Linked DNA regions of Homo sapiens: region 1 is reported to be linked to region 2. Evidence: microRNA targets listed by miRTarBase, many of them from high-throughput screens and not tested one by one. Region 2 holds a microRNA gene; the other region holds the end of a gene's coding sequence.

Region 1 (4,000 bases), not on the chromosome of region 2:
GTGACATTTTTTAAAAACAAATCATTTAATTTTGCTAATGGTCAGAGTCTTTTCTTGGCATCTAAATCCTGCCCCTACCTCACCCCCCTACCAAAGTCCCAATGTTTAATGGGAAAAACCACATAGAGGCACAAGGGAGGTGGGCCCAAGACCTTTGTTCTGTAGGCCCTCACCTTAAGAAAAAGGTGCTATGTTAATATTAATAAATCATAATATGCAAATCACCAAAGGCTGGGCCCGGTGGATCACACCTGTAATCCCAGTACTTTGGGAGGCCGAAGCAGGCAGATCACTTGAGCTCAGGAATTTGAGACCAGCCTGGCCAGCATGGTGGAAAACCCCGTCTCTACTAAAAATACAAAAATTAGCTGGGCTTGGTGGCACTTGCCTATAGTCCCTGCTACTTGGGAAGCTTAGGCAGGAGAATCGTTTGAACCTGGGCAGCAGAGATTGCAGTGAGCGGAGATCACACCACACCACTGCACTCCAGCCTAGGTAACAGAGTGAGACTCCATCTCAAAAAAAAAAAAAAAGAAAAAGGATAGACACCCTAGCCAACATGCTAAATATATTTTCTTATTTTAGAGGATCCATCCTGCGTAGATTTCTTCAACTGGTGTCACCTAGTTCCTCAGCATGGTGTCTGCAACCACAAGTTTTACGGAAAACAATGCTGCAAGTCATGCACAAGGAAGATCTGATCTTGGTGTCCTCCCCAGCACCTTAGGGCCAGGGGCTTACCTTTCAACCTCTAGAGAGACCAGCTGCCTTTGAGACCAGGAGCTGAGCACCGAGAACCATCTGTGAGCTGCCGCTGTGATGAAGGAGCCTGCTCTGAGGAACAGACAGGTTGCCAGTAGGCTTCTAGCTCAATTCCCTGAAGCACGTGGTACTCTGAAGCACTTGAAAATGGGAAGCGATGACAAATCTGACTTTAAAAAAAATCTTTGATTTGCACTGTTATATGCAAGAAGTGGTGAATCACACTGAGATACGTCGATTTGGGGAGAGACCCCCTTTTGAACTTCAAAGGGTTCAAGGGCAAAGACATCTGTTTTAAAAAGGTCCTTTATGACTTCAGGTCAAAGACTGAGACTCAGAACTTTCAAATCTGGATGGAATACCTTGCCTAACTGTTGCGTGGAGTTCACAGTTCGACTAACCCTGTGAACACCCAAGCCAGGAGTTCTATGAGAAGCCAAATGGTGCTCGCAATTGTGCTTGCTGCTGGACTGGCAAGCTTCATGTTATGTTTATTTGGTGTGCGTGTGTCTTTATTATTTTGTGTAAACTATATTCTGCTTATAGAGAGTCTCTGAGACTAAAATTGACAACTTGAAAAGTATTCCAAGGAATATTATGAAAATAGGGCAACATGGACTGTTTAAGATCTCCATGTAATTGAAATTCATGCAAGGAAACAACTCATAGAAAAGATAAATATGGATGCCCTTCACATGTTATCAACCTCGTAACTTTTGGTGCTTGCTGAATCAGTCCATGAAAAGCTACAGCCCGCTCTTTGGGAATGCTACATACCCATTTCTGGTATTTAAAAAATATCTAGGAGGAGCTAAATGACAAAACACAGCAGTGTTTTGAGGGAGAAAGGACCATCATTTATAATGCTCTGTACATACTACCAGAGCTGCTTGGAAAATTAAAGGCCACTTGTGGCTTTTTCCTACCAACTGATACGTTTAAATTTGCCCTAGGATTGAGCTAACAGCAAAAAAAAAAAAAAAAAAAAGAGAGAAAGAAAGGAGTAAACAGTGGTAATAAAAAAATCCATCTGTCTTCTTGCTATGTTAATATTAATAAATCATAATATGACAAGACCCTCACTGAATAAGAGTATTTTCAGTCATCAGAAGCCAGCTGTTGGTAGGCATTAATGAGTTTAAAATTGTTCTCAATTGAAAAAACATCACACTATTTTGCCAAAACCAAAGTAATTATAATACTGTGTCCTCCTGTAATTTTTTGAGAAGTGGTTATAAAGGGCATATTTACATAAATTCTACTTTATTCCTCAACTTCTTTGATGAATGTAACCCAATTTTACTTCTTTAAAAAGTCTCAATTCAAGCTGGATTAGCCAGCTCAGCATAATCAACTAGACAGTGGTTTGTTAAATTTAGCAGCATACTTCGTTCCCATTCTAATTAAAGTCATGAGTTCTTGAATCCCAGAGAAATAATGCTTAGGAACTTCTCTCAATCTGCTTGGCTTGGCCTAGAGAAGTGGCCATTTTATCAACAGGAAAAAAAAAAATTTTCTCTACTACAACCCCGTTGCCTTCTGAAAAACAGCAAGTTATTTCTTTATATAATTATCATTTTATTATTTTATGGAAAATTAATTTATTAATTAATAGCCTATTATGTGTTCTCACTTGCTTCTCTAAGTAATATTTTGAGATAAAATGTTGAATAAAACCATGGATTATAGAGAAAAGTCAAAATATATGTGTAATATTTAATTATTTTATAAGTTTTATAATAAAGTATTCCATTTCTTTATCTTTGACAGCTTGTTAAGTTCTTGAATAAGTTAGTGAAAAGTCCATAATTTCAAAGGTAATTTAACTGTATAAATGTCACTCAGGACTCTTAGAGAATGGTTGGGTGCAGCGGTTCACCTCGGTAATCCCAGCACTTCGGGAGGCCAAGGCAGACGGATCACCTGAGTCCAGGAGTTCGAAACCAGCCTGGCCAACATGGCAAAACCCTGTCTCTATTGAAAATACAAAAAAAGTAGCCAGCTGTGGTGGCACACAGCTGTAGTCCTAGCTACTTGGGAGGCTGAGGCTGCAGTGAGAGGAGATTGGGCCACACCACTCCCCGCTGGGTGACAGACAGAGACTCTGTCTCAACAACAACAAATCTACAGAGTAACTTCATTGAGAAGAGGAAAGATAGATAAGCTATTCAACAACTAGTGATTTTTCTTGTTTGCCTTTGAAGAAATCAAAGTATGAAATGCTAGGATGAAACAGATGACACATTTACCCTCTTGAGGACACACTATTTTGTTCCCCTGTAATTGTCATGAGAACATTTGTGGAAATCATCTAAGATAAAACTACCATAAATGTATTTTTACATTTAAAAGTCATTCTAGTAAAATATTTTTGTAAAAATAAAGAGGGGGAAGGGAAGGATGGGCAGGAAAACATGAAAAAAATAAAAAGTAATTGTTCTTGGCTTTTTGAAATTTTGAATCATTAAACCAGTGGAGAATAAGAACTGGGCAAAGTTATGTCCAATTGATCTGAAAATACTGTATTTTTCCCTGCATCTGTGATTACATGTGTGTCTACATAAGTTCATATGCGTATCTTTATAGTTAAGAGAATTTTTATATAATTTATTGCTATTTAGCAAACAAAAAATTATGATTAAGAATGGAAAATGGAATAGATGCAGATAAAATACGTGACAGAAAAAAAGATATTTTGTTCTTTTTTTGAGACAGAGTTTCACTCTTGTTGCCCAGGCTGGAGTGCAATGATAGGATCTCAACACCCTGCAACCTCCGCCTCCCAGGTTCAAGCGATTTTCCTGCCTCAGCCTCCCAAGTAGCTGGGATTACAGGTGCCCACCACCACGCCCAGAAAAAAAAATTGTCTTTATACCTTTTGGTAATAAGCAACCACATATTAGTGTTTAATGGGAATCAGGTATTGTACTGAACTATTTATATATGTTATCTCATTTAATCCTAACAATAGCCCACTTAGGAAGATACTATTGTTCTTTGTTGGCAGGTGACAACTCGGATTCAGAGACATTACGTATTTAGCCCTAGTACACAGTCACTGAGTGATGGGGTCAGGACTCAAACCCAAATCCATTGGGGTTCTCGTGACTGTGTTGCGTTACCCTGGGATAGAGAAAGAAAAAGAAGGGCATGCAGGCCTTAGAACTCTACTTTTTGCCCCCTGAGATGCATGTGAATGGAGTTTGACAATAAGTGATTTAACAATGATAAATTACGG
Region 2 (4,252 bases):
CCGCTTTCCCTCAACCTCACCTGCATTTGGAATTGCACAATTGCTAGATGAAAGATAATTCAGTACAGATTGAACTCCCATTCATTCTGGGATGGATCAGCAGGAAATTCTAAGAGGAGAAGCTGGTTAGGATCAGAAAACCAGCGAGGGCCAGGTGCCCAGTAGAGGGCGCTGCAGCGCATGCCGGTCCTTGGCCTGCAGGAGCAGCCAGGGGGCATGTGCCTGAGTTGGGCGAAGTACTGGCACAGGCTGTCCTGGAGAGTAGGGCAAGGAGAGCGTGAGGGAGGCAGGAAGGTCCAGAAAGCAGCAGGTCTCCTTTTCAATTCTAGCCTTTCAGCAGGCATCCAGGATGACGAGTTCTGCTAACAGCCTGGCTCCCTAGCGGGTGTAAGGGCTGAAGAGGCGAGACGCTTCCAGAGTCCAGAGGTGCCTCTCATGAACCTGAGGCCACCTAAAAAACCTGGAAGCCTGGAGAAAAGGAAGGGGCTGAGGCCCCAGAGACCATGCTAGGACTGGCCCTGCAGGGCCACTAAGTGGACTCTACCTGCTGTTGAGAAGGCCCCCTAAAGGGTTCTTTTTCTCCTAATCTCGAACAGGGCATTGAAAGCATCGACCAGACTGCCAGCCTGTGCCAGTCTGACCTGGAGGCCGTGCGGGCGGCAGCCCGGGAAACCACACTGTCGTTCGGTAAAAAGTGGCACAAACTGTGCAGCGCAGCGGGGTGCCTGGGGCCCTTAGAATCTGCGAGAGGCCACACCCAGCTCTCCCAGCAGGCAGAACAACTCTGGGGCACCTGGGATGGGCACCGTTAGCAGCCCTGGCACAGAGCCGACCTCCACCCTTTGTAGCATCCTGCCAAGGCAGGCCTCCTCCATGGCTGGGGTGGCAGGGAGTGTTCGCTGTCTTCTTAGACCTTTGGGATAGAAGCCAGAGGCAAGGCAGGGTTCCCATTCAGCGGAACATCCTAGAGGTAAAGACAAGGCCCCCAGGCCATGTGAGTCACCAGGTGGGGGCTCCCGCACATACTCCCTCCCCTGCCGCTTTGCAGAGACCACTGAGACCCACAGTCACTAAGCACTAGGGCCACCCTGGCCCAGGAGAGTTGGAAGTGCCAAGGCAGGATCCAACCCGCTGACAGGTCCCTTTGCTATTTCAGGTGAAAAAGGACGGTTAGCTTTTGAGAAGATGGACAAGCTCTGCTCAGAACAAAGAGAAGTCTTTTGCCAGGAGGCAGATGTTGAAATCACAATATTTTAAAAAATCCTGGCTGATGAGCACAAATCTCACATCGTTTTTTTTGCTGCTGCCCAGCCTGGACATAGCCTGCACTCTGGGTAATGGTGCTGTGCACTCCTCCAGGAGTGTGAGCTGCCCAGAGCTCTACCTGAGACTCCGGCCATTGACCCAGCCCCAGGGCATGGGCTGGTCTTTTGTACAGAGGCAGAAAAAAGCAAGGCAAAGGTACAGCATTCCAGGGGCTGCACGGCCTCAACAGAGCGCTCAACTTCTGGCTGAGGGTCTGTGTGACCTTCCCCGAGATGCAGAGCTGAGCCAAACTAGGTGGCCACCTACAAAAGGGCCAAGGCCAGGCAAGTTGAGGCCCTAAATAAAAGGCTCCAAGGCAAGTGTGTAGAACTCCAGGCCTCGCTGCCGGTCAGCTGCTCGGCACTTCTGCGTCAAGAGGCACTGGGGATGCAGCAGGCTGGCAGGTGGCTGGCCCTGCTAATGCAAGACTGCTCAGGCCATTTCAGCAGCAGCCAGGTGTCACCTTGGTGAGCTGGGGAAGGTGGGAAGGCACAAAGCCAGGGTTTCTACAACCACACTCTCAGCCCGACTGACTTGCTGCGAGTGCTGGTGGAGCTCACAGACGGCGGCTGGTGGATGGTGGACTGTGAACCTCACTTTCCCTATGTTCAGCAGCACAAAGGGAAGAAGCCACCACATCAGCCCAGGAGCCCTGAGCAGCACAGGCAGTAGGGCCACTCACTTTGGCCATCCGCACCCAAATGCAATCAATCAACCCAGCTTCGGAAGCTACCCTAGGATCTCGTCAATAAACTGCTAAGAAGCCATCAACTGGCCTAAAGAAAGAGTTCACTGAAGAACGCAATTGCTTTAAAGAAAGAAAAATTAGTTTCCTATTTAAGTCTTAAAAAAAAGCAAACCATGTCCTGAGATGTCTGTGTTAATAGTGCAGAGAGAACCTAGGGTTTGAGGTTGCTGTAGCAATGGCATTGGAGAACTTTAACTTGAACATTCTCATCGATACTTCCTGGACATATTTTGTGTTTTTAACTTACTTAGTATTTATTTGCCTTGTTCATATGTTCAATTTTCTGAAATTTCAATTAAACTATTGGTGTTTCACTTTTTACCCAAAAGAGTAGACAGCAGTTGTTTCCCCAAATACCTGCCAGTGAGGAGGTCACTCCTGTGGTCTTGTGGTGCGCTGTGGGGACACTTGGAGGGTGGCCTCAGGCAGCAGCTCCGGTAAATGCAGTCTCCAGGCTTCTCTGCATGCTCTCGAAGGCTCCAGGCGTGCTCTCCCCTATATGGGCACTCTGTGGCACGGCCTTTGCCCTTTTGTCCCATCTGATTTCTGGCAAACCCTCTCTTTTTAAGCATCAGCAGTACCAGCCTAGAGCAGGGGTCCTCAACCCCCAGGCCACAGACCGGTACTGGTCTGAGGCCTGTTAGGAACTGGACTGCATGGCAGGAGGTGAGTGGCGAGCGACTGAGCATGACCACCTGAGCTCCATCTCCTGTTAGATCAGCTGCAGCATCAGGTTCTCTTAGGAGCGTGAACCCTATTGTGAACTGAATGTGTGCAAGAGATCAGGTTGCAAGCTCCTTATGAGAATCTGATGCCTGATGATCTGAGGTGGAAGTTTCTATCCCAAAACCATCCCTCACCACCCCCAGGCCTGTGAAAAAATTGTCTTCCATGGAACCGGTTCCTGGTGCCAGAAAAGGTTGGGGACCGCTGCCCTAGAGCATCCTCCCTCTTCTTGAAAGCTTAGATGCCCTTTTTTATACCTGAAATGGTGGAAGCCACACTGACTTCTGCAGCCCCAGGCCCCTGTGGGTCCACATGACCACAGCCTGTCCTCTTCCCAGTCTCATGAGCCTGGGCCTGCAGCCAGCTTTGAAACAGTCGAGGAAACTTCGAGGGTACTGGGGAACTCTTCGTACTATTTTGGCAACATTTTGCAAGTCCAAAATTACTTCAAAAAGTCAAAAAAATCACTTTGGGGGGAATTTACATTGTTTAATTTTGTACACAAATGAAAAACTATACTAATCTGTCTTATTTCTAAGTCAATTCTATATCAAGTGGACTTTACGTACTGAGATGTGGTAACCATTGTGTCTTACAGGTAATTGGGTAAGGGATATGGTTTTGAGATTACAACTCAAAACACTGTTCTTCAAACAACACTGGTAAGTTTGTTAAGTTATCTGAGGGCCCTACACAGGCAAAGCGTCAATTTGGGAAGGAAATGGGCTGAGGCCTAAGGTGTTCAACAAGCTCACAGTCAAGGAAAGCGCTCCAGCCTGAGGGTGCTGGCAATGCAGGGATGCTGAGGTTAATTCTTAGAAGTGGAAAACTCTAACCCCAGCTGATTGACAACATCTGTTTCACATCAGCAGGGATAGAAAGAAACAGGAGTTACTCATCCTGGTTTAGCTCTATTAAGCAAAGAAAAAAATGGGAAGCACCCCAAATTCATGTTCTTTAGAAAAAAATTTTATTGTTGCAGCTAAAATGCAAACCCATCATGAATATGGCAAGTTGGAAAACTGTACAGTCTGACAGTTCTGTGAGGTCACAGAAGACCCTGAGACACTCCCCCCCACCCACCCGGTCATGCAGCCACGTATCCACACACACCTGAAAAGGTATTATACCAAAACACCTTGCTTTTTTTGTTTTTATTTTTGTAAAAATGGTTTATTCCATGGCCATTGTAAAAAATAATGACCTGATGAGTAAATATTGGCTTAAGGCATATAGCAGAGCAGCTCGCTACCTCTCTAACATAATGTGTAACAAGGTGGAGAGCCAGCTGCTCTCCAAGGATAGGAGGTTAAACCAGTACGTCCATTTTGAAATGCTACTATATATACACACCCAAACTACTACATACATATACAGGACTTAAAAACAACAAGCCCAGCTCAGAATGCTTACAGCCTGGCACCTAAGCCTTATCCACACCTCACCATAGCTCTGCAGGGTGACACCTCGAAT

The links. The annotated mature microRNA hsa-miR-645 reads UCUAGGCUGGUACUGCUGA and lies in region 2 at 2,625-2,643, opposite strand. An mRNA with a match to its seed (bases 2 to 7 or 8) in the 3' UTR can be bound and repressed. Matches are read on the target gene's strand: a 7mer-m8 pairs with bases 2 to 8, a 7mer-A1 pairs with bases 2 to 7 and ends in A, and an 8mer does both.
Region 1: the mRNA of ADAMTS18 is a reported target of hsa-miR-645. Seed matches in the 3' UTR shown: 7mer-A1 at 2,234-2,240.

Annotation. Positions count from the first base shown.
Region 1 is chr16:77,280,657-77,284,656 of GRCh38, reverse strand. ADAMTS18 (ADAM metallopeptidase with thrombospondin type 1 motif 18) reads left to right here. Exons shown (of 23, transcript NM_199355.4): 23 at 586-2,529. The coding sequence ends at 701. Among named protein-coding and RNA genes, the nearest start is that of SYCE1L, 83 kb to the right of the region's middle.
Region 2 is chr20:50,584,237-50,588,488 of GRCh38, reverse strand. MIR645 (microRNA 645) reads right to left here and starts at 2,703; the gene lies at 2,610-2,703. It overlaps PTPN1 (protein tyrosine phosphatase non-receptor type 1), which reads right to left. Exons shown (of 10, transcript NM_002827.4): 10 at 3,248-4,252. It overlaps RIPOR3 (RIPOR family member 3), which reads left to right. Exons shown (of 22, transcript NM_001290268.2): 21 at 597-687; 22 at 1,157-2,381. The coding sequence ends at 1,257. RefSeq lists enhancers at 266-325, 1,142-1,654, 1,655-2,168 and a silencer at 63-357.